Linked DNA regions of Homo sapiens: regions 1, 3 and 4 are each linked to region 2. The links come from fine-mapping of genetic effects on gene expression. A gene starts in region 2. Each other region holds a variant in brackets. All regions are shown on one strand. Distances are between the middles of the regions.

Evidence for each region.
Region 1: its variant is fine-mapped to the expression of LRRC28 in whole blood (TOPMed, PIP above 0.99).
Region 3: its variant is fine-mapped to the expression of LRRC28 in whole blood (INTERVAL, PIP above 0.99).
Region 4: its variant is fine-mapped to the expression of LRRC28 in whole blood (TOPMed, PIP 0.98).

Annotation. Positions count from the first base shown.
Region 1 is chr15:99,217,645-99,226,122 of GRCh38, reverse strand. It overlaps TTC23 (tetratricopeptide repeat domain 23), which reads left to right. Exons shown (of 14, transcript NM_001288615.3): 6 at 4,259-4,382; 7 at 7,075-7,225; 8 at 7,410-7,535. Among named protein-coding and RNA genes, the nearest start is that of TTC23, 28 kb to the left of the region's middle. RefSeq lists an enhancer at 7,010-8,209. The variant C/T (reference allele first, on the strand shown) is at 3,131.
Region 2 is chr15:99,249,427-99,253,426 of GRCh38, reverse strand. It overlaps LRRC28 (leucine rich repeat containing 28), which reads right to left and starts at 1,946. Exons shown (of 10, transcript NM_144598.5): 1 at 1,886-1,946. It overlaps TTC23 (tetratricopeptide repeat domain 23), which reads left to right and starts at 3,846. Exons shown (of 14, transcript NM_001288615.3): 1 at 3,846-4,000. RefSeq lists a silencer at 1,632-2,171 and an enhancer at 2,422-2,471.
Region 3 is chr15:99,278,380-99,282,379 of GRCh38, reverse strand. All of the region lies in intron 3 of LRRC28 (leucine rich repeat containing 28), which reads right to left. Among named protein-coding and RNA genes, the nearest start is that of LRRC28, 29 kb to the right of the region's middle. The variant C/G (reference allele first, on the strand shown) is at 1,532.
Region 4 is chr15:99,227,055-99,235,532 of GRCh38, reverse strand. TTC23 (tetratricopeptide repeat domain 23) reads left to right here. Exons shown (of 14, transcript NM_001288615.3): 4 at 453-545; 5 at 6,801-7,000. The coding sequence starts at 6,821. Among named protein-coding and RNA genes, the nearest start is that of TTC23, 18 kb to the left of the region's middle. The variant A/G (reference allele first, on the strand shown) is at 5,439.

The sequences.
Region 1 (8,478 bases), 30 kb after region 2:
CTTTAATCTGAAACAATTGCTTAACCTACTTTGTTTTTCATGATCTTGATATCTTGGAAATATATACTCTAATTGTTTTGTAGAATATCTCTCTGTTTGAGTTCGTCTTATGCTTCCTCATGATTCTATTCAGATTGTACATTTGGAGCAGGACTACCACAGGTGTGACATGGGGCGCTCCTTAGTGCGTCCTGTCAGGAGGTGCAGAATGTCTGTTTGTCTTCGTACAGTGATGCCAACCTTGAACACTTGGTTAAGGTGCTGTCTGGCAGGTTTCTTTACTGCAGAATTGCCATTTTTCCCTTTGTAATTAATAAGTATTTTGTGGGTAGATTCACTGAGACTATGTATATATTTAAAACTTCACTCTGCCACCTGAATCAGTTATTACTATGATGTTTGTCACATAGCCAGTCTCTGACTTCCACATTATTTCAACATTTGTTTGTTGGCATTCTATTATAAGGAAGAGCTTTTCTTTCTTCACAGCTTATTTATCATTCATTTATTCCTATCAGTATGGGTTCAGGAAATTGTATTTTTCAAATACACTACAACCTGTTATTTTCATGGAAGCTCGGATTGTTCCGTATCTGCCAGTGAGAGACCCTTCCAGCTGGCTCCTGAGTCCTCAATGCATCCCCTTACGGTTTAACCACTTCCTGGCGCTACCACTTGCTGGTAAATCATCTCGACTTTCCAGCCTTAGACTCCTTCATCTTTAAACTGAGGGGACCAGGTGAGATGATTTCCAAGGTTCCTCCCAGTTTTGAAATTGCCTTCCTACTTCGTGCTTGTCTTCTGTCTGCCCCTTACTGATGCCTATTGCTAAAGTCACTGGAACTGGTAGAATAAAGGTTGGAAAACCAATAGGGATATTTGGACCATGCCTTGTAACAAATAAGGACGTGAAGGAAGGACAAGCTGTTTCTTGTATACCTCTATCCCTACTCAGGTCCTGAGAACCAAGGCTATTATCAGGGAAGCCCAACTCAGCCTGCACCGTCCTCTTCGCTGGAAATCTGTAGTTGGGACAGATTCACTATCAAAACAGATCTACCTCTCTTTTTGTCTGTCTGGATTCCATGATGTTGTCATCATTTCCGTGTCTTTCATACACTGTAGTTGTTGTTCTCTTTCTCTCTCTCCAAAGTAGTCATTCCCTAAACTTCCTGTGTCTAGAGGCAATAAAAAGGTGATTCCCAAAAGAAGTACAAACAGCCAGTTAACACATGAAGATGCTCAGCCTCATCAATTTGGGAGAAAAATGTGGACTAAATCAAGGAGAAATGGGCTAACTGACAAACTGACAAACTAAAAACCAAACAAAAACTCCACAATTTGTACTCAGTTCAACGTAAGGGGCATTTCTGCTCACATGTGCTGCGCTGAAAGTATGAACTGGTACAACCTCTGGGAGAGGCACTTCAATAGCTACTCACAGCCTCAGAATTTTGCATATCCTTTATACAGCAATCCCATTTGTGGGAATTTGTTTTGTGGAAATGTTTATGGGTATGTGCAAAGCTATCCATACAGGATATTCAGTGAGTAAGAAATTTACAAACAGCTAAATGCCCAATAAAGAGTGGATTGAGTAATGCAGTTATGATATAGTCATATAATAAAATACTGTGCAGCCATTCAAACTTATATCATAGAAGATGACATGAGAAGTTATTCGTAAATTGTTAAAACAGCAGCTGTAAACCTGCATGTAGTTTATGAACCTATTTTTGAAAAAGAAAAAATATATAAAGATAGATTCACAAAAATAAAGAATAAAGGGATATTTATCTACCTAGATATCTCTAGGCGGTAAACTTACAGGTGATTTTTAGTTTTTATCTTTTTGCTTATCTGTATTTTGACAATGAGCATACATTATTTTTGTAGTAAGAAACGTTACTGTAGAAAAGAATATGACAGTCCACCTTCTTTCAGCACTTTATGGTGAGCATGTATTCCTTAGCTTCCTCCTGCTAGGTCACAAAAGTGACTCTCCTTTGGCCAACTGTCTGGCTGTGTATTTTTGTCAAGAAAAATGTTGTTTTAGGGTGAAGGTATTTCCAATGCATGTAGGAATTGTGTGGAAATGCAAGCCCTTTGAGCTTTGACATTGATGGGCGTGCATCCTAGGTGTATCCTGGATCTTCTTCACAACTCTGTCCTTGTTCTTACCTTTCTTCCTCTGCTTTGACCCCTTCAGCTTTCTTTCTTCAGCCATCTCTCTTGCTGTTCTGACTATCTGTTGCTGCATGACACCCCAATAACTTAGTGGCTTAAAACCAAAACAGCCATTCATTTTTCTCATGAGCCTGCGGTTTTTGCAGAGCTCAGTGGGGTTTGCTCAGCTTTGCTCCGCACAGCATCAGCTGGTCTTGAAGGGTCTGGAGAATCTGCTGCCAAAATGGTTCACTCAAACTATCAGGCCTTTCTATGTGGGTCTTCTCTCCATGGGGCCATGTTGGCTTCCTCACAGCACTGTGGTTGGATTCTGTATTAGTCTGTGGTGCTGTCCTAACAAAATTCCACAGATGCTGTGGCTTAAAGAACAGAGTTTATTTCCTCACAGTTCTGGAGGCTGGAAGTCCAAGACCAAGGTGTGAGCAGGGCTTGATTTCATTCTAAAGCCCTCTCTCCTTAGTTTGTAGATGACTGCCCTCTTGCTGTGTTCTCACATGGTCATTTCTCCATATGCATGCCCATCCCTGGTGTCTTTTCCTCTTCATATATAAGGATACCAGCTGTATTGGACTAGGGTCCACCCTAACACCTCCTTCGAACTTAAATCACCTCTTTAAAGACCTCATCTTCAAAAACAGTTACATTATAAGGTGCTGGGGATTGGGACTTAAATATATGAATTCAGGGAGGTTGGGGAGGAGACACAGTTCAGCCCATAACAGGTTTCAAGAGTGAGTACCCAAGAAGAGACAGAAAGCAAAGCCACCAGTTCCTTTAGACTGTGGCCTGAAAACTGGCACTGTATCATTTCCTCCACGTTCTATTGGCCAAACAGTCATAAAGCCCAGATTCAAAGGGAATGGGACATAGACCCCCATCTCTGAATGGAAGGAGTATCAAATAATTTTGGAGCTGAGGTTTTGTTTGTTTGTTTGTTTTGAGA[C/T]GGAGTCTCGCTGTGTCGCCCAGGCTGGAATGCAGTGGCACGATATCGGCTCACTGCAAGCTCCGCCTCCCGGGTTCACACCATTCTCCTGCCCCAGCCTCCCGAGTAGCTGGGACTACGGGCGGCCGCCACCATGCCTGGCTAATTTTTTGTATTTTTAGTAGAGATGGGGTTTCACCATGTTAGCCAGGATGGTCTCGATCTCTTGACCTTGTGATTCACCCATCTCCGCCTCCCAAAGTGCTGGGATTACAGGTTTGAGCCACCACGCCCAGCCTGGAACCGTGTTTTAAAACTGCCAGCTCTGCTTTGAGGATATGGCTGCTCTGAGATCACCTGGAGCTGGGAATCCAGTTTTCTGTTCTTTTTGTCCTATCCCTGAATGAAACTGTGCTTCTTGCTGCTTTAATCAAGTCTGTAAGTCCTGCTGATCTCATTTGCTATGCTAGTGCAGATGGCTAAGGAAAGTTTTGAATTGAGAGCTAAACTATAGTATTTGACAGCCTGGGCAACATGGCAAAATCCCATCTCTACCAAAAATACAAAAAACTAGCCAGGTGTGGTGGTGCACACCTGTGGTCCCAGCTGCTCAGGAGGCTGAGGTGGGAGGATTGCTCGAGCCCCCTGGAGGTCGAGGCTACAGTGAGCTGATATCGTGCCATTGTACTCCAGCCTGGGTGACTCCAGGTGAGTGAGACCCTGTCTCATACACACACACACATACACACACACACAAAGTGTACTATTTGAAAACACTACCATTTGCCCCTGTTGTGCCTGCATATGTAGTAGCTGTTCATTGGTGGGCAGCTGGGAAACCTAGAGAATGACTAGATGTCTGCTCTACTTTTTCTATTTTTTAAATTCTATTTCTTTTTTTCACCCTTAAATGTACTATAAATTGTACTTCTTATGTTTATTGTCTGTTTCATCTTACCAGATGTACATGCTACCACCCCAAATAGATCTTTGTCTGTTTTGTTCTCTGATACATCTCAAGTGCTTAGAACAATGTTTTGCACATAGTAGTCACTCAGTATTTATCAAAGGGATATAAAAGCGCATTGATTTTGTGTTTTGTGACTCTTAAGTTGTATAACTGGTAAGCCTGTTTTCTCTTCCTAACAGTACAAACAGGCCGTCCATGAGCTTGTGCGTTGCGTAGCACTGACAAGAATTTGCTATGGAGACTCACATTGGAAACTAGCAGAGGCACATGTTAATCTGGCTCAAGGCTACCTCCAGCTGAAAGGTAAGCTCGCCTTAGACTGAGGGGGATCAGTTGGTCGATTTCTGCTGTTCTCCCCAAAATTTGATTCACACTTAATTAGAAGGATCAGGTTTTTTAATATTCTCCTTTCTAAATACCAAGAAGCCATTTCTTTTTAGAAAGAGTTGATAAGGTATATAACCTGTAAACATTCAAAGGGGAAAAATGGAAAAAATATTTTAACTTTTCTGGTTTTTTTGTTTTTGTTTTTGTTTTTATGATTTCAAAAGTAAGGTTCTTAGGAGAAAATTAATCTGTTGGGCCAGAAGACTTTGTAGGAAAAAACCCAAGGTATGGAATAGGGGCCCAGAATGGGATCCATTCACACTTTTATTGGAGAATCTCTTGACTGTAAATAACCAAAAAATTTAAAAAGACTAACCCAAATTGGCATAAACAAAAGTTTTTGGCTCATACAACTTAAAAATTCAAGGGAAAAAATTTTTAGACTTAGCCATATCCAGTGTTCAAACAATGTGACCAGGATTCAATTTTTCTCTCTCCCACTGCTTGGCTCTGTTTTTCTTGGTATTTGCTCCATTCTTTGCCAGGTTTTGCCCACATGGTGGCAACAAGACTGCCTGCAACTTTAGACTTCCCTTATAAGCATTCCCAGGAGGAAAAGAATGTCCCTCCACCAAAATCCCGGGATTTGGGAAGGGTTCTAATTGGAACAACTTGGGTTGTATACCAAAGGCAAGGAATAGTCTGATTGGCTAAACCTTTCTTTTGGCTTCATTGGATCCTGAAGGAGAAGCAGGCCTTCGCCACATCTCATGGATTGGATGTGCAGGAGCCAGGCATCCCAAAAGGGAAACAGAGGGGAGAATGCGTGCAGGGGAGGCAAAAACAATAGACACCCAGGATATGATGATGGCTTCTACTTACTGACTGTGCAGCCTAAGACAAGATGGACAAGAGCATCTCTGTGCTCAGCTTCTTCAGCTGAAAAGTGATGATGATGGTAATGGTGATGCTAACTTTCCAGGGTTGGCCCAGTGAATAAAGAAAATAATAGAAGTGGAAAACACCAAATGCCAAGCATATTCTATACCAAGCGTATTCATTATTGCCACCCAATAAATTTGGCCAAATCTGATTATAGACTGGTCCTACCTATTAGATCAAAGGCTCTTAGGGACCTTGGAGATTATCTAATTTAAACTCTGCCCTCCCACCCCATTTTGTAGATTCAGGGAAAACAATGAGTCTGAGTTAGAACAGCTTTCCCCATACCACACTGTTAATAAGTAGCTGATCTGAGACTCAGACCTAGGTTTTCAATGCCAGTTTGTCCTGCCATCTGGGGTTTCAGACGATGCTTTTCTTATACAGCCTGCTGCCTCTCTGCGTGACAGTCCTTCTTTCTCAATTTAAAGTAAAAGTAGTATCTACCATTTATTAAAGTCTCATTTGGTGCCAGGCATGTTGTTTTCCATGCATAACCTTATTCAGTCCTCACCACAGTCCTCAAAGGTGGGTATTTTTAATATCCCTGTTTACAGCTGAGAAAGCTGAGGCCAACGTTTTATAATAAGTGGTGGAGCAGGGGATCCATCCTGGGCAGTCTGACTTCAGAGCCAATGTTCTTGAACTTCACCCTATGCTGCCTCCAGTAAATTGAGTTCAGGTTCCTTCAGGGACTCGACACAGTTGAAAATACAGTCCAACATGCTTTGTGTAACATCACAAGCACAGGTGGCACTAATACATGTCTGTGCTTTTTAAAAATATGTAATAAGACAATCTTGTGTAAGAATTCCCACATGAAACACATACCCTTGATTTTCTCCATTAGAAAATATATTCTTCCTGTTTTATAGACATAGGAACAGAATTAACTTCATATTTTGACAGATTTTTTTAGAGATCTAAGATACAATTTTGTGTAACTAAGAACATAAGATGGGGGCTGTGTGTATGTGAGTGGAAGTGGTTGTCGGTGTAGGGGAGGAGGATGGGAATACAGGGACGTGCAAAGCCCTGAAGCCGTGCTAGCGATCTCAGTCCTCCCTTCCCACAGATTAACAAGCCCGTGGAGGAACACTGGAACACACTGGGGAATTCTTTCTTAGTAGTGATTTTTTTTTGCTCCACTTTGTTTCATATTAGTCTCTTACCACATAGGAAGATGAAATTGTCACACATTAATCTGTTACCTCACTGGAATTGTGTTTGTAAGTTTTTGTAGATATCAGATATGTATTATGTTAAAAAAATAACTCTCTGACATTATGATTATAGGTGGGTGAGCTGAAGATTCAGAATTTTTAGTATTTCATTAAGATTGCAGTTACACAGCCAGGATTAAAATTCATGAATATTTTATTTCCTGCTCAGAATGCTATAGTTCTTGTATTCAGTTTGTTTCTTATAATTATATGTAACATATTTTGCTTCTGCTATTGGTGAGGTTTCAAAGCTGTTCAATTCCAGCTCATTTTGTTTATTTCTAAAAAGGCCATTTGGGGGAAAATTTATCTTGGGTACTTGGTATAAAACACTTCTTTGGTTGTTACAGTCATGGCAGTGTTTCATGCTGCCCAGATACGTCTCCATGTGTCATTTGACAATATGTGAAGGAGACCTTGTTAGATTCCCAGACCATAAGGAACTGTATTCCTGTCCAGTTGAGATGATAGAGAAACTGAGACCTCTTTTTCTTTGTCCACAGGACTGTCACTGCAAGCAAAACAACATGCAGAAAAAGCCAGACAAATCCTCGCCAACTCCATTGTGCCTCCCTATAGTGAGAATACAGATGTTTTCAAGTTTTCCATTGAGCTTTTCCATACCATGGGCAGAGCTTTACTCTCCCTTCAAAAGTATCCTTTTGCCTCTAACTTTTACAAATAGAAATACTATTCACGTAACACTTACACGCCAAGTAAAAAGCTGATGCTGATGGATGACTTAGGAAGTGTGATTGGAAGTATGGGAGCCAAGGAAGTTCAGGACATGGGGTGTAGAATCTAGAACCAAGTGGAAAATTTCCTGAACACAATTCAGATTTAAGGAAGCTGCAGAGAATTTGACAAAAGCAGAGAGACTTTCAAAGGAGCTGCTACAATGTGGAAGAATTATAAAGGAAGAATGGATAGAAATTGAAGCACGGATCAGATTATCATTTGCACAGTAAGTTTCAAGTTTAGGATTTTGCATACATGATGGCGGGAGGCTCTTTGCCTGTAGAATCTGTCTCAGGTAGGAGGAGCATCTCCATGAGGCTGCGGCCATGGCTTCTCTGGAGGTCACTGTGTAAAAGTAAAAGAGGAACACAGTCATGTCAGAGCAGCCCCAACCAGGGCATCCATCAGTGACACTTTTCACTCTCTGTGGAGTGCCCTGGGTCCCAGAGTTCTGATCATTATTCTCTTGACTTTCGTTTTACCTGCTCTCCCTCCTCACCCCCAGCCCCTACACCCTTCTCTTCCTCCCTCCCTTCCTTTTTTCCCTGCCCTGCTCCAGTCTAAAATGCTTCAACAGGTTGAGTTTATGATGAAAGCCTCAAAGGAGAAAGATCTTAAACACATCTGAATCCATGATCACGAAAGGATTGTTCTTTGTTCCTCACCTTACTCCATACTCACCAAATAAACTCAGCTGGAAGAGACACGAAGAGAAGGTTGTGCATAGTTAGTACTTTTATCTTTCTCCAAAGAGCAACCTAAGCCAATTCCTCAGAGTATTGGGGTGACAGAGTTTGTCCACACTCTTTGGAAAGATGGACTTGTGCAGAGGAAAAGGTGGAGAAAGGTCTGTGTTGGAAGAGGCAGAGTATCCCAGTTGACCTACATGGCTGCCCTTAGCCAAAGCCGGAAGAATTCAGTTTACCTTCCTAACTAGATTGTATGTGTAGGTTGATTGCCAAGACGACTCAGAGAACCCACGGAATCATTTTAAGAAAGGTGCTAGGAAAGGGCCCCAGGAGAACACACCTAATGCTTCCATGTGAATGGAAAGTGGGAAGAACCAACTTTGACTCATGCAGTTAAAGATCTTCTTTTGTGATCACAATTCCCTTTGTTCTTTTGTTTTTCTTGGGTGGTTTTTGAACTGCAAGTGCAGAGCTCACTCA
Region 2 (4,000 bases):
TCCTGAGACCGGGCGCAGTGGCTCACGCCTGTAATCCTAGCACTTTGGGAGGCCGAGGAGGGTGGATCACCTGAGGTGAGGAGTTCGAGACCAGCCTGGCCAACTTGGCGAAACCCCATCTCTACTAAAAATACAAAAATTAGCTGGGTTTGGTGGCGGGCGCCTGTAATCCCAGCTACTCGGGAGACTGAGGCAGGAGAATCTCTTGAAACCGGGAGGCGGAGCTTGCAGTAAACCGAGATCGCACCACTGCACTCCAACCTGAGCGACAGAGCGAGACTCAGTCTTAAAAAAAAAAAAATCACTTCCCTATCCCAAAGTAATTCCCCTGGTGTTCTTTCAGAGGAACTTGGCTGTTTGTTTTTTCTTCGTAGGACTCCTCACAATTTGTCACTTAAATATTTATCGTTGCATCTGTCTATTGTCAATAAAGCCAAAAAGCCTGTAAATAAACCCTTCCGAAACTTATTTAGAAATCCTGAGGGCAGGGACTGCGTTGTTTTCTTCACGCTTGCATACCTGCATCTAGCACAGTAACTAAAAGTAACCCTTCCTAAAACCTAGGTGATGGGTTGACAGGTGCAGCAAATCACCATGGCACACGTTTACCTATGTAACAAACCGGCATATTCTGCACATGTATCCAGGGACTTAAAATTTTAAAGTAGGCCTTCTAATATCTGATGACATGTGGAAGAACATTGCAAGGTTGATTTTTCATCCAACTATGTCAAGACCACGGATAGAGCCTATAAGCTTGCTACATGCCACAAGGATGTCTAATCTTTACAACCATGCACTGCAATAGACATTATGTAGCCCGTTTTGTAGAGGAGGAAACTGAGTTTCTCAGAGGGTAACATGCCATAGTTCCATCGCAGGTGGACTGACTACAAAGCGTGTGCACCGCCGCCCTATAATGCAAAACCACACTCACTGAAGGAAGATTCAATAAGACAGTCCCTGTAACCTGACGGCTTTCCTTCTGAATGTTCTGGCTGGGATTGGCTGCCTCAAAAACACCATTACACTCTGTTAAAATTGCTACAAAGGCTGTTTGGGAGATAAAATCTAAACAAATGAAATCCTAAAACTGCCAATAATAGCAATAAAGCATCAACAATGCTCACAGTTTTGCAGTATGCATTCACGGGCCATACACAGCCTTTAACAAGGTAATTTTCTTACCCCATTTCACTTGACTACATCTTACCTAGTTAAGCAAACTACCTCTTGTATAGTTATACTACCTCTTATGTAGTTAAGGCAAATAGTATTACTTAATATCAGCTGTATACAGCTGCACTTACACACGAGCTTTCTGACAGGTGAACACCAATCTATCTTATTATTAAAAACAAAACAAAAAAATCAAAAACCTCTCAACAAAATTCCACACATATTAAGGAGTATTTTGAAAGGAAGGAGTCCCTTATACTGACCTCCCCGTACTCAATTTAGTAGAATACGCATTCCAATTTCCTAACGCTGGAGATTAGAGAACTATAAGCTACATATTAAAAGCATTTGTAAAAGGCTATTTTCTCAGCTGTGGTAACAAACACTGGCAGAGTCTTAGGCAAAACACACGCCGTTTCGCCCGAGTTAGCCAGCCACTGAGATCGTTACAGTTGGGAAGCAGCGAGCCCAGCAGCAGGGATTTCACGGACCCGGTATCAGGGTTCTCGGGTCCCAGGGGCCGCGGGCCGCAGAGTGGGAGGAGGACCCGGCAGCTGTGGCCACCCGAGGCCCGGACGGCTCCGCTGTCCCACTCGCCGCGACCCGGACGCTTTGGCAGGACCACGTCTGGGGCGTCCCCGCCGGGGGGCCGGGTCAGAGAGCCTCGCCACTTGAATCACCCGACGAGGCGGACAGCTCTACTCACCTCAGCGCCAGCAGAGCCAGCGCTCCGGAGCGCAAGCGGCGCTGGAAGCCAAGCGGGGGACGGCGGGCGGGGCGGGGCAGGGAGCCAGGCGAGGGCGGGGCGGAGCGCCGGGCGTCGGGGGCGGGGCTCCGGGGGTGGAGCGGAACCCGCGCCAGAGGGAGCTGGGGAAGAGGGAGCGGGAGAGGAGCACGGAACCTCGCGATAATCCCCTGTGTTCTCGCGCTTTCACGATAGGCGCGGGAAAATGCTCGTTTGCCAAGCGATCTGTGTATTGGCCGAGAGCGCTACTTCCTCTATGCTGGCCCCGCCCGCGGCTCTACTCTTGCTTCCGGCTCCGGCGTGGGGTTTGATGTCGACGGAGTGGCTTTTGCTTAGCGTCTTGAAGGGGTAATTTAGTCGGCTCCAACTTCGGGAACCGCCAGTTACTGACCTGTTCCTTCATTCATACATTCATTCAGTCACTCGGCTTCTCATTCAGAGCACACGTTGAGGGATTACAACAATGATCCCACGTTGAGCGTTCGTTCTAAGAGCTGTTTATAGATTATCTCGTTGAACCCTTGACAGCAATCCCATGACACAGGGACTAACAGCGCCAGTCTGACCGTTGAAAAACAGGCCAGTGGGTTTATGTAACGAAGCCAACGTTATTTAGCAAGTAGTGAGTCTAAGCACCGGATTTAAGGGGTCACTACGAACTGGTAGATAACAAAGATGAGGAGGACGTAACCTAGTCTCTGCCCTTCAAACACCCAAGGTTTATTTTGAGTAAAGATTGCTAAAAAGGTCAGGAACAATTTAGAGAGTTAAATACAATGACACTTCCTAGCCTGACTGAGTAGGCCGTCAATATGTATTTCTTCAAGACGAAAATTATTATGTCAGCGAAATAGCATGAAAGAGGGCTTTATGCTGTTAAAAATACTTGGAAGCATAGTTCGGAAACATTTTTAAAAGACACTTTTTAAAGTGTCTCATTAATATGACAAATTTCCTTCTGAAATGAAGATTTTAAAGTATAATCCTCTACTACAACCGCTGATATTTTTTGTTCTGTGGAAAGCCTGTCTATGAGTTTGCGAGGCTCCTTGTCAAGGAACTTTAACTTTATAATGAAGTAGTTTTTACAGTTGCTGACTTAATTATTCATAGAGACGAATAACCTAGAAAGCAGAGTTATATTAAATAAAAAACATTGGTTTTAAAACAAGGTATGAGTTATAATAAAAATTATCAGTTATCTATTAAATCTGGTCTTCAAGAGCTATTCAGGTATACAGCATGGTTGGTATATGTCATGTATTTCTAAGATAGTTTCGGAATACCTAAGAATTCGTGGCACTCAGAAATTTTTTGCTGGTCTTAAAATGAGGAAATCCACATTTTGTGTAAAAACAAAGATACGGTGTTTAATGGTCAGCCCAAATAATAAGACTTGCTGCTAATATATGAAGAGTTACACCCCCCAAAAAAGAAAAAAGATTAACAGTAGAACAGTTTTTTGAAAACAATGTTAGCCTCTTAGTTTTCATTTCTTTTTTTTAATGGGGAATACTGTTTTTCAGTGATTAATATCTGATATTTGATCATGAAAAATGAATCATGTTAAAATAACCTTCACCTCCTCCCCACATTGACACAAAAGTTACCAAGTGATTATATTTGATAATACTTTATGACCCCACTCTTGAAGTTCTCACAATTTGTAGAGAATCAATTCGCACGTTTTGTCTCTCTTAAAGGGGAAAAAAATCCTCTAAGCTGGTGATTTCACGTTCTTTGACAAACTTCAATATCAACAGGCAACGATACCACTTTAAGAAAATTCCAAGGAAAAGACCTCATTTTAAAATTCCCACCTCTGGCTCCCAAAGATTGGTTTGCAAACTTCGACAAAATACTCTTCTCCACTCGCTATTGGTGAGTGCTCTATCATTCATTCTTTTGCCTGGAGTTTTGTGAGGTACCCGCTTGCTTTATGGGAAAAGGCTGCTCCGGAACTGCCCTACTTTAGACTTTTTCATGGTTATCAATCTGTACAAAGAATCACCAAACTGATAAAGCAGGAACCAGAGGGCAAATCACGCTGCCAAGACAACTGTGTAATTCGCTCGA
Region 3 (4,000 bases), 29 kb before region 2:
GAAAGGAAGTAAGCCACACAATCTCCCTAGCTTTCACCCTAGGGGCAAATTCTGGACTGTAGAACAGGAAGGAAATCCCAAAGTACAGAAGTCTTACTGAGTTATGGAGACACATATCAGAGTTCAGGGAACCTGAGGCAACTGGAAGTTGTGGGGTAAAGTTCTGAAGAAGAGAGAGCTACTGCTACAAAAAAAAAAAAAACCTCCAAAAATTTGCATAAGGAATCCCTTGGCCTCACTCATAGCTGAATTCTAGAACAAACACACATAAGAAAAACTCTAACAGGATACAGTGGGTCATGGGTCATACCTGTAACCCTAGCTACTTGGGAGGCTGAAGCAGGAGGATCACTTGAGGACAAGAATTCAAGACCAGCCTGAGCAATATAATGGGACCCCCATCTCAAAAAATAATAGAAGAAAAATAAAAGGTACTCCAGGCAAAAAGCACCTGAAAATCAATCAGCTGAACAGCCTGCAAAGCTCACAGTGTTGAGAGACATTCAAGTTCTGAGCAAGTATGCCAAATCCTTGTTGATCATTTGAGGTATTCAAGAGAGATCCTGGAAAGCTCATGCTTTAGTAATAGGGCTAACCTAACCACCTATCCTAACAAAGTATAAAAATAAGCCATAAAAGGATCAAAGTAAACTGCAAATAGCTGCATGCCAGAAAAAAGGGACACAATAAAATTTAGACTCTCAAAAATGCAAACTTTATAAGGTCCATCCAATCAAAAAGTATTAGACATGCCAAGAATCAGGAAAATATGACCCATAACCAGGAGAAAAATCAGTCAGTACAAATAGAACCAGTATGACACAGATGACAGAATTAGCAAACAGGACATTAAAATAGCTATAATAACTATATTCAGCTATTTAAATGAAAATATGAACATTATAAGAACTGTAAGATAAAGAAAAATAAACAGAACTTCCAAATATCATAAATACAGTAACAGGCTGGGCACAGTGGCTCACTCCCATAATCCCAGAGCTTTGGGAGGCTGAGGCAGGAGGATCACTTGAGCCCAGGAGTTTGATGTTACAGTGAGCCATGATTGCATCACAACACTCCAGTGTAACTCCTGGGTGACAATGTAAGACCCTGTCTCAAAAACACACACAGAAAGCCAGCCTGGGCAACACAGCAAATCCCCATGTCTATGAAAAAATTTAAAATTTAGCTGGGCATGGTGGTGCATGCCTGTACTTCTAGCTACTTGGGAGGCTGAGATGGGAGGATCCCTTGAGCCCAGGAGTTCAAGGCTGCAACGAGCTAGGATAGAGCCACTGCACTCCAGCCTGGGCGACAGAGCAAGACCCTGTCCCTTAAAAAAAAAAAAATACAGTAACCAAAGAGAAAACTTCACTGAGTGGGATTAGTATAGTACATTAGACACTGAAGAAGAAAATATTACTGACTTTTAACACAGAACATACAATTTGTCCAAACTGAAGCACATAGGGAATAAAAGTCTGAAAAGGAAATGAAAAGTCTTAGTGACTACGAGACAGTATTAAACAGT[C/G]TAACAAACAGGTAAGAGTTCCACAAGCAGGGGCCAGGAACAGGGTATATAAATAAATATCTGAAAAAACAATGTCAAAAGTTTTCCAAATTTGATAAAAACTGTTAAGACACAACCCCAAGAAACCCCATGAACCTCAAAGGTAAGAAAGAAGAAAACTACAACAAGATACACCTAAATCAAACCCTTAAAATTAGTGTAAAAAATGAAAACCCTTCAAAGTAGCCCAAGGGAGAAAAAGACACATACACACAAAGGAACAAATATAACAACTGTAGATGTTTCTTCAGAAACTATGCACGCCAGGGAATAATGAATATCATGAACGTGCTGATAACAACAACAACAAAAAAAATGGTCACTAAGAATTCTAATCCCAGAAAAAAATTTTAAAAATATAGGTGATAAATGTACAATAAAAAACTGTAAGACTTTGGGGTGGGGGCGGGGAAAGGAGAGAGTCTTTGGGACCTAGGGCTAGACACAGAGTTTTTAGACTTGCCATCAAAAGCATGACACATCAAAGCAAAAAATGATAAACTGGACCTCATCAAAATGTAAAACTTTTGCTCTGCAAAAGAACATAAACAGGATGAAAACACAAGCTATACACTGGGAGAGAATATTTGTAAACAACATATAGAACAGAAAACTAGTTTACAAAGAACTCTTAAAACTCAGAAATTAAAAAAAATACAATCAGAAGATGAGCAATAGACATGGACAGGCATTTCACCAAAAAAAGATGCCAATGACAAATTAGTATACAAAAGGATGTTCAATATCATTAGTCATTCTAGAAATACAAATGGAAATTCCAATGTCATAAAAACCACATATCTATCCAAATGACTAAAATAACAAAGACAACACCAAATGCTGGTAAGATGTGCGGACGCTGGAACAATCATACATTGCCAGGGGAAATGTAAAATGGAACAGCTAATCTGGTAAACCGGCAGTTTTTTACAAAACTAAAAATTTTGAGCAACAGTGGTAGAGTAAGAACCTCCAAAAATTCTCTTCCATAAAAACAATGAGAAACTGTCAGAAATGTCCAAATGCTACATGTTGAGAACTCTGGAAATGAACCTAAGGCTTACCATAATACAGGGAGAATTTATCCAAGAAAAAAATGACTGAGCGTCAGTAAGAACCGTGGGTTGTAGGCTTCATGGTATTTTCGCTTGCTCTAGTCCTAACCCCACTCTCCTGCTCTGCAGAAGCCTGAAAAACCAACAGTTCACAATCAAAGAGAAAAGCAGTAGCAAGGGGGTAGGACCACGTTAGAGTGCCTTCAAAGCTTCCTTCTCAGAGAACTGTCAAAGATTTGTCTCAAGGTTCCCTGGAAGACCCAGTTGCAAGGCTGTCTTTATTCCGTCTGAGTAGCAGATTGCCCAGGGCAAAAACCACTGTAAACTGAAACAAATTACAGGCAATTGTTTAACTTCACAGCTGCTTGAAACAGTTGTAACAAACAACTGACAAACCACAAACTGTAAAAGGAAAAGCTTTCAAAATGTGGAAACCACTCAAATGTCTATCAACTGATGAACAGATAAACAAAAAGTCATGTATCTATTCAACGGAATATTATTCAGCCATAAAAAGGAATTAATTCTGATACCTGCTACAACATGAATAAACCTTGAAAACATTATGCTATGTTAATGCAGCCAGATACAAAAGGTCACATATTGTCTCATTCCACTAATATAAAACATCCAGAAAAACGTGTATCCATAGAGACGGAAAGTACATTAGTGATTACCAGGGATTGTGGGAAAGTGTATACTCTCTCTTGCTCTTTGGCTTGCTTGCTCTGATGGAAGACAGTTGCTATGTTGTGAACTATCCTACAGAAAGGCCAAATGGCAAGGAAATGAGGGAAGTGCTCTAGCCAACATCAAGCAAGAAATGGAGTCCTTCAGTTCAACAGCCTACAAGGAATTGAACCTGACAACAACCACGTGAATAGAGGAAGATCCTTCTTCAGTTAAATCTTCAGATGAGACTGCAGTCCTGGCCAACAACCTTGACTGCAGCTTCGTAAGAGACCTGGAGGCAAAGGCACCCAGCTAAGTCAGGCACAGATTCTGGGGCCTCAGAAAATACAAGACACTGAATGTTTATTCTTTTAAATCACTACATTTGGGGGTAAGTTGTTAAGCAGCAATAGATAATTAAAAAGGTGAATATTTGCTTAACACAATAGACTACAGACACTTTAACTGTAAAGCCAGCATCTTTCTTAATGGGGAAACCCTAGAGGCATTCCCAGCAAGATCAGAAAGAAGACAAGGGACCAGGTGCAGTGGCTCACGCCTGTAATCCCAGCACTTTGGGAGGCCAAGGCAGGTGGATCACAAGGTCAGGAGTTTGAAGCCAGCCTGGCCAAGATGGTGAAACCCCGTCTCTACTAAAAATACAAAAATTAGCCAGGCGTGGTGGCGGATGCCTGTAATCCCA
Region 4 (8,478 bases), 20 kb after region 2:
TGGGCGTGGTGGTGTGTGCCTGTAGTCCCAGCTACTCGGGAGGCTGAGGCAGGGGAATCGCTTGAACCCAGGAGGCAGAGATTGCAGTGAGCCGAGATCGCGCCACTGCACTTTAGCCTGGCGACAGAGCAAGACTCCGTCTCAAAAACAAAAACAAACCAAAAAAAAAAAAAAATGCTTAAAATGTCCACATGAAGAAAGGGAAAAAAATGAAAAGGTTAAAATGAGAAATTTTATTTTATATATATATATTTTTTACTACAATTTTGTTTTGTTTTGTTTTTTGAGATGGTGTCTTCCTCTGTCTCTCAGGCTGGGGTTCAATGGTGTGATCTTGGCTCACTGCAGTCTGCCCCTCCCAGGCTCAAGCCATCCTCCTGCTTCAGCCTCCGGAGTAGCTGAGACTACAGGCACATGCCACTGCACCTGGCTAATTTTTGTATTTTTTGTAGAGACAGAGTTTTGCCATGTTGCCCAGGCTGGTCCCAAACTCCTGAGCTGAGGTGACCCTCCCGCCTCCACCTCCCAGAGTGCTGGGATTACAGGTATGAGCCACCATGCTTGGCCTTATTTTACCAGTTTTTTTTTTTTTAAACCCTGCCAAACTGTTTTCCAAAGTGGTATACCATTTTACATTTACAGCAACAGTGTATGAGAGTTCCAGTTATTTCCCATCCTCATCAACACTTACTACAATAAGTCTTTTTAATCTTAGTCATTCTAATTGATGAGTGACGTCTCATTGTGGTTTTAACTTGCATTTCCCTGATGCCTAATAATGTTGAATATAAAGCATGTGCTTATTTGTTCTTGGTATATCTTCTTTGATGAAGCGTCTGTTAAAATAAATTGCCCATTTTTGGCCAGGTGCGGTGGCTCACACCTGTAATCCCAGCACTTTGGGAGGCTGAGGCAGGCAGATCACGAGGTCAGGAGATCGAGACCATCCTGGCTAATATGGTGAAACCCTGTCTCTACTAAAAATACAAAAAAATTTAGCCAGGCATGGTGGCGGGCACCTGTAGTCCCAGCTGCTCAGGAGGCTGAGGCAGGACAATGGTGTGAACCCAGGAGGTGGAGCTTGCAGGGAGCCGAGATCACGCCACTGCACTCCAGCCTAGGCGACAGAGCGAGACTCCGTCTCAAAAAATAAATAAATAAATAAATAGATAAATAAATAAATAAATTGCCCATTTGTATAGTGAGCTGTTTTCTTGAGTGTTGAGAGTTCTTTATACCAGTAAGATACAAATCTTACATCAGATACATGTTTATGAAAATATTTTCTCCCAGCCTCTAGTTTTTTAATTAACAGTTTCTCTTGAAGAGCAAAAATTTAAAATTTTGATGAAATCCAATTGGTTATGTTGTTCTTTTAATGATTCTTTTTGGTGGTCATATCTAGGAAAGCTTTGCCTAATGCATGGTCACAGGTGTTTTCTTACACATTGTTTTTATAGTTTTAAGTTTTATATTTAACTCTATGTTCAATTTTGAGTTAATTTTTGTATATAATATGAGATATAGATCAAAGGGGTTTTTTGTTTTATTTTTACGTGTGAATATCTAGTTGTTCCAGTATCATTTGTTGAGCAGACTTCTTTCTCCAAGGAATTGGTTTTGCATATTTGTCAGGAATCAGTTATTCATGTATGTGTGGGTCCATTTCTGGACTCTCCATTCTGTTCCATTGCTTGTCTACTTAACAGCAGTACAAACTGCCTTGCCTACCGTAGCTTTATCATAAATATAGCTCAATAAATCTGTATTTTAGATTTAAATCTAAATTTCACATTTAGATTAAAATCTAAAATCTGTATAGAAGTATTGAGAGTGAACCTTCTTGTCTTGTTTCTGATCGTAGAGATAAAGCATTCAGTCTTTCACTGTTAAGTCTGATGTTAGCTGTAGGTTTTTCAAAGGTGCCTATCAGATTGAGGAAGTATAATTCTATTCCTACTTTGCTAAGAATTTTCATCAGGAATAGATATTAGATATTAGATCTTGTCAAGTGCTTTTTCTATGTTGAGTGAGATCATACAGTTTTTCTTTTTTATTAATATTTTGGGCTTTGGTAGTTTGTGTCTTTAAAGGAATTTGTTCATCTGTATTGTCAAATTTATGGTATAAAGGTGTTCACAATATTCTCATTAACCTTTTAGTATTTGTAGAATCTGTAGTGATGTCATCTCTCTCATTCTTTTATTTGTACAACATGATGTTTTGAAATATGTACATGTTGTGGAATGGCTAAATAAGCTAATTAACATATGTATTACCTCACATATTTATCACTTTTTGTGATTAGAACACTTGAAATCTACTTTCTTAGCAATTTTCAAGGAAACAATACAGTAGTCACCATGTTATACAATAGATCTCTTGAATTTATTCCTCCTCCCACAACCTCCGCTAACCAGCATTCTACTCTCTACTTGTGTGAGTTCAACTTTTGTAGATTGTACATATGAATGAGACCATTCAGTATTTGTCTTTCTGTGCCTGGCTATTTCACTTAACATAGTATTTTCCAGGTTCATCATGTTGTCACAAATGACAGGATGCCCTTCTTTTTTAAGGCTGAGTAGTATTCCATTGTGTATACATACCACATTTTCTTTATCCATTCATCTGTTGATAGACATTTACATTAACACCGTATCTTGATCATTGTCAATAATGCTGCAATGAACATGGAGTGCAGGGATCTCTTCAATATACTAATACTGTTCTTTGGATGTATCACCCAGTAGTGGGATTCATGGATCATATGGTAGTTCTGTTTTTAATTTTTGAGAAACTTCCTTACTGTGTTCCATAATTTACATTCCCACCAACAATGTGCAAGGATTCCCTTTTCTCCACATCTTCACCAACATGTATCTTTCTTTTTTTAATCATAGCCATTTTAACAGGTGTAAGATGAAATCTCATGGATATAATTTGCATTTCTCTAATGATAACAATCTTGGGCATTTTTTCATACACCTATTGGGCATTTGTATATCTTTTGAGGAATATCTATCAGGCCCTTTGATCATTTTTTTTTTTTTTGAGATGGAGTCTCACTGTGTCGCCCAGGCTGGAGTGCAGTGGCTTGATCTTGGCTCACTGCAACCTCCGCCTCCCAAGTTCAAGCAATTCTCCTGCCTCAGCCTCCCGAGTAGCTGGGATTACAGGCATGTGCCACCACGCCCAGCTAATTTTCTGTATTTTTGGGAGAGATGGGGTTTCACCATGTTAGCCAGGATGGTCTCCATCTCTTGATCTTGTGATCCGCTCACCTTGGCCTCCCAAAGTGCTGAGATTACAGGTGTGAGCCACCGCGCCCCGCCAAATTTTTCTTTCTTTATATCCTTACTCTATAAGCTTTTTTCTATTTTTAAAATTTTTTATTTTCTTTTTTTACTTTTTAAACTTTTTTGTTAAAACTAAGACACAGGCCAGGCATGGTGGCTCATGCCTGTAATCCCAGCACTTTGGGCGGCCAAGGCGGGTGGATCACCTGAGATCAGGAGTTCCAGAGCAGCCTGACCAACATGGAGAAACCCCGTCTCTACTAAAAATACAAAATTAGCCAGGCATGGTGGCGCATGCCTGTAATCCCACCTACTCAGGAGGCTGAGGCAGGAGAATTGCTTGAACCTGGGGGGTAGAGGTTGCGGTGAGCCAAGATAGAGCCATTGCACTCCAGCCTGGGCAACAACAGTGAAACTCCGTCTCAAAACAAACAAACAAACAGGCCAGGCGCAGTGGCTAATGCCCGTAATCCCAGCACTTTGGGAGGCAGAGGTGGGCAGATCACGAGGTCAGGAGATCGAGACCATCCTGGCTAACACGGTGAAACCCTATCTCTACTAAAAATACAAAAAAATAGCCGGGTATGGTGGCGGGCGCCTGTAGTCCCAGCTACTCAGGAGGCTGAGGCAGGAGAATGGTGTGAACCCGGGAGGCGGAGCTTGCAGTGAGCCGAGATCGTGCCAACTGCACTCCAGCCTGGGCAACAGAGCGAGACTTCGTCTCAAAAAAAAACAAAATTAAGACACAAACACACACATTAATGTAGGTCTACACAGTCAGGATCATCAATATCACTGCCTTCCACCTCCATGTCTTGTCCCACTGGAGGGTCTTCAGTGGCAGTAACATGCATGGAGCTTTCATCACCTATGATGATAATGGAATACCTTCTTTTGGAATAGCTCTTGAAGGACCTGCCTGAGGCTTTTCTACAGTTAACTTTTAGAAATGTATAAGTAGAAGGAGTACCCTCTAAAATAAGTATAAAATGTAGTATATTAAATATATAAACCAGTAACAGTCATTTATCAACTATTATCACATATTGTGTACTGTACATAATTGTATATGCTTTACTTTTATATGGCTAGCAGCACAATAGGTTTGTTTGCACCAGCATTACCACCAACACATGAGTCAATGCATTACGCTATGATGTTACGACAGCTACTGTATCACTACCCAGTAGGAATTCTTCAGCTGCACTGTAATTTTATGGGACTACCTTTATGTATGCAGTCATTGACTGAAATGCTGTGGAGCTGGACATGATTGTAATATGGAAGCAGCCTTACACATTTGCCCATGTACGTACCATTTCCAAGGTCGTCTGTTTTGTAGAACTAGAGTTCCATTTGCTATCATTTTCCTTCCTTCTGAAAGACTTCCTTTTACATTTCTTTGAGAACATTGTAGTGCAAGTCTTCTGGCGATTAATTATTTAAAATTTTGTTTTCAAAAGGTATTTTCACCAGTACGGAATTTAAGGTTGACAACTTTTTTCTTTCCATACTTTAAAGATAAGAAGTATCTTTAACTCTCTCCTTGTTTGCTTTTTATTCCCCTAAGAAATCTGTTATCATCTTTATCTTTATTTTTTATACGTAATGTGTCTTTTTTCTCTACTTTTGAGATTTTTGCTTTATCATAGTTTTAAGCAATTTGTTTATGATGTTTTGACTTTATTTGGTATAGTTTTCTTCATGTTTCTTGCGTTTAGTGTTCATTGAGCTTCTTGGATCTCTGGCTTTATGCTTTTTCTTAAATTTGGAAAAATATTGGCCATTATTTCTTCAAATATGTTTTCTGTCCCTCCTCTAGTCTGCTTTTCTTTAGGGACTCAAATGACATATATATTAGGCAACTTGAAGTTGTTTTACAGCCCACTGATTTTTTTTCATTTTTGATAATTTTTATTGCTATGTCTACAAATTCATCTTTTCATCTGCAGTATCTTATCTGCCATTAATCCCACACATTTTCATCTTCACACATAATTTTTCTATCTAGAAGTTCCATTTGGGTCTTTTTTATTTCTTCCATGTCTTTATTTAACTTTTTAAACATATAGAATACAATTATTGTAATTGTTTTAATGTTTTTATCTGCTAATTTAACATCTGTGTCAATTCTGGGTC[A/G]GTTTTGATTGATTATTCTCATTATGGGCCATGTTTTCCTGCTTCTTTGGATGCTTGGTAATCTTTGGATGCTAGACTTTGTGAATTTTACCTCGTTAGGTGTTGGTTATTTTAGTATTCCTATGAACATCCTTGAGTATTATCCTCTAGTGCAATTAAGTCCCTTGAAAACAGTTTGATCCTTTTAGGTCTTACTTTTTTGATCTGTGTGGTGATCTGAGCAGTGTTCAGTCTAGAGCTAATTATCGCCTCTACTGAGATGAAAGGCTTCTGAGTACTCTAACTATCTAATGCCTCATGAATTAGAAATTTTTTCAGTCTGGTTGGTGGGAACAGGCGCCAGCCTTACGTTAGCACAAAACACTGTTCCCTGTAACCTTATTGAAGGATTCTTTCTCCAGACTAAAATACTTTTCTTACACACATGCTAATCAGTATTCTGTCCCTATACTTGAGGGTGTCCCTCTGCTAATATCTTGGTTCCTCTGTCTCTGGAGCCTTCTCCTCTTCAGTAATTTGTCCTGTCAGTTCTAGTCACCTTGGTCTCCCCAAACTCTCAACTCTACTTCCTCAACTCAGGTAGTCCACTGGGATAACTTCTGGGTCCCCTCTTCCCTGTGCTGTTTCCTGGAAACTCTCTCAAAGCAATAAACTGGGGTGATTTATTTTTTCCATCTCTCAGGAATTGCTCTCTCATTGCTTGTCTTGTTTCTTGAAACCGTTGTTTTATCCTTTGTTCTGTGGGCTGCTTATCTGTTTGTTTTGGGTTATTTCAGGCAAGAGGATAAATGTAGTTACTAGACTTCATCTTGGCCAGAAGCAAAAGTTGTAACAACAATTATTTATTTTCTACCTCAGGGTCAATTGGGCTTCAGCTGATTTAATCTGGGGTCATTGAGAGCTGTTTGGGCTAAGCTAATTTCTACTGGACTTTAGATATATATATATATATGTACATGCAAATACATATGTATGTGCTAGGCTAATTTCTACTGGACTTTATATATATATGTACATACAAATACATATGTATGTGCTAGGCTAATTTCTACTGGACTTTACGTATGTATGTATGTGTGTAATACATACACATATACATGTATGTATGTGTGTTTATATACATGTGTATGTATGTGTGTATATGTATGTAGGCATATATATATGTATGTCTATATACATAAAGAAAGAAGGTTTAATTTAGTTGAAAGTAGAAATCAGCAGGTCAGTAGTAGCCACCATAATCTTTTGGGATATAATGCTACTAATTTCAAAGAAATTATGGGTATAGTGTTGAAATGTATATTTCTAAAAGTAACTATGGAAATTATCATTTAACATCTTTGTTTTTTATTTTAAAATTAGAAGACAATGTATATAAAAATATGCAAGAATCACAGGAAACCCACATATCCAACCACCTAGATGAAGTTGTTGCTGCTGTTAGCATCACTCATAGAAAGAAGTTCCAAAACAAGCTGCTTCAGACAGCACTATTCCAGCCTCCTCGAGAGAAACTCCACCTCTGTGAAGAGAAAGCAAAGTCCTATTCCAACAGTCATGAGGTAAGGAGACTTTTGTTTCTGTATTTCTACTCTGAGAATTGAGCTATATGGTATAATCAAGAGAAGTAGAATGTTTTGGATTACATTCCTAATCTCAGCAGTTTGATACAAGAAAGTATATAAGACAGTGCCTTTGTTATAACATGAATGAATGCAGTACCTCTAGGCTCCAAGCACAGCAGTTCGCATGGCCAACAACAAATATTTGTTGAGCTCGCACTGTGTGCCAAGTCTAGGCATTGGGATACAACACAAACAAAGCAGATGCAGCTTCTGCTCTCATAGAGCTTGTAATTCCTTATAATCTCAAATCTTGTTCTCTGCATGCTTCTTTCCCATTCTTTCCTCAAAAGTTTTACTCATTCACTAACTCATTCAGTAGGCATTTCTCTATCACCTCTTATATGTTGGGTCCTCTTCATCCAGTCATCATAAATATCTATTGTATGACTAATATGTGCCAGGTGCAATGTAGGTGCCAGGGGCACAGAAGGAAAAGCCACAGTCTTTGTCTTGGAGGGACTCGGGATTTGGTTGGGAAGATAGACGGGGGACAGATAATGGTAGTCAGGTTGATGAGTTCTGTGAGAGCTCGAGTGACATAGATGCAAAACACGAAGGGGTGGACAGTGAGCCTGGAGGTGGTAGAGGGACAGCAGTTAAGGCACACTTTCTTCGGATGGGAGTTACGTAGACTGCACTGGTAAACAGTGCTTAGGAGTTGGACAGGTGAGGAAGAGGACCAAATGTTCTGGACAGAGGTAGCAGATGGACAAGAGCCAATGGTCTGAGGGAGTGCAGTCTGTCTGGGGAACTGTAAGGAGCTGTCTGGGACTAATGTGTTAGTGACACAGGGCAAGAAATGAAGCTGGATTATGGGCAGGAACTGAGGCCCAGAGGGCACTCAAGGCCTAGTGAAAGAGTTTTGATTTTCTCCTAAAGATGATGGAGGATTACCATGAGGTTATAAGCAGAAGCATGCCATGAGCAGGTCTGATTTTAAGAACAGTCACTCCCATAGCTGTGAAGGGTATGGACAAAAAAAGAGTAAAACTGGAAAAGGAGCATCAGTTAGGAGGATATTTGCAGTAATCCTGGCAAGTAATTATGAGGACCTGAACTACGTGTGGCAGAGACAATAGAAATGCTGAGCTCTTTTGAAAGGAATTTAGAAATGCAAATCAGTGGGACAGGACTGGATGACTGAGGGGACATAGGGAATGGAGATGTGAGAGTGAGAAAGATGGGGTGTGTAGAATTCCCACCACCCAAGGTCTGAGTCTGCTTGGGTGATTGGAGACTTGTCCATGACCTTCATCAGTATAACAAATACAGGAGAAAGACCAGGATTATAGAGAAAGAGCATAAATTTGGTTTTGAGGTTGTGCTTGTTCATTATGCAACAGATACTCACTCAGAACCTACTATTTGTAGGCTCTAGGCTGGCAGCCTTTCTCAAACAGACTTCTGCAAAAGAA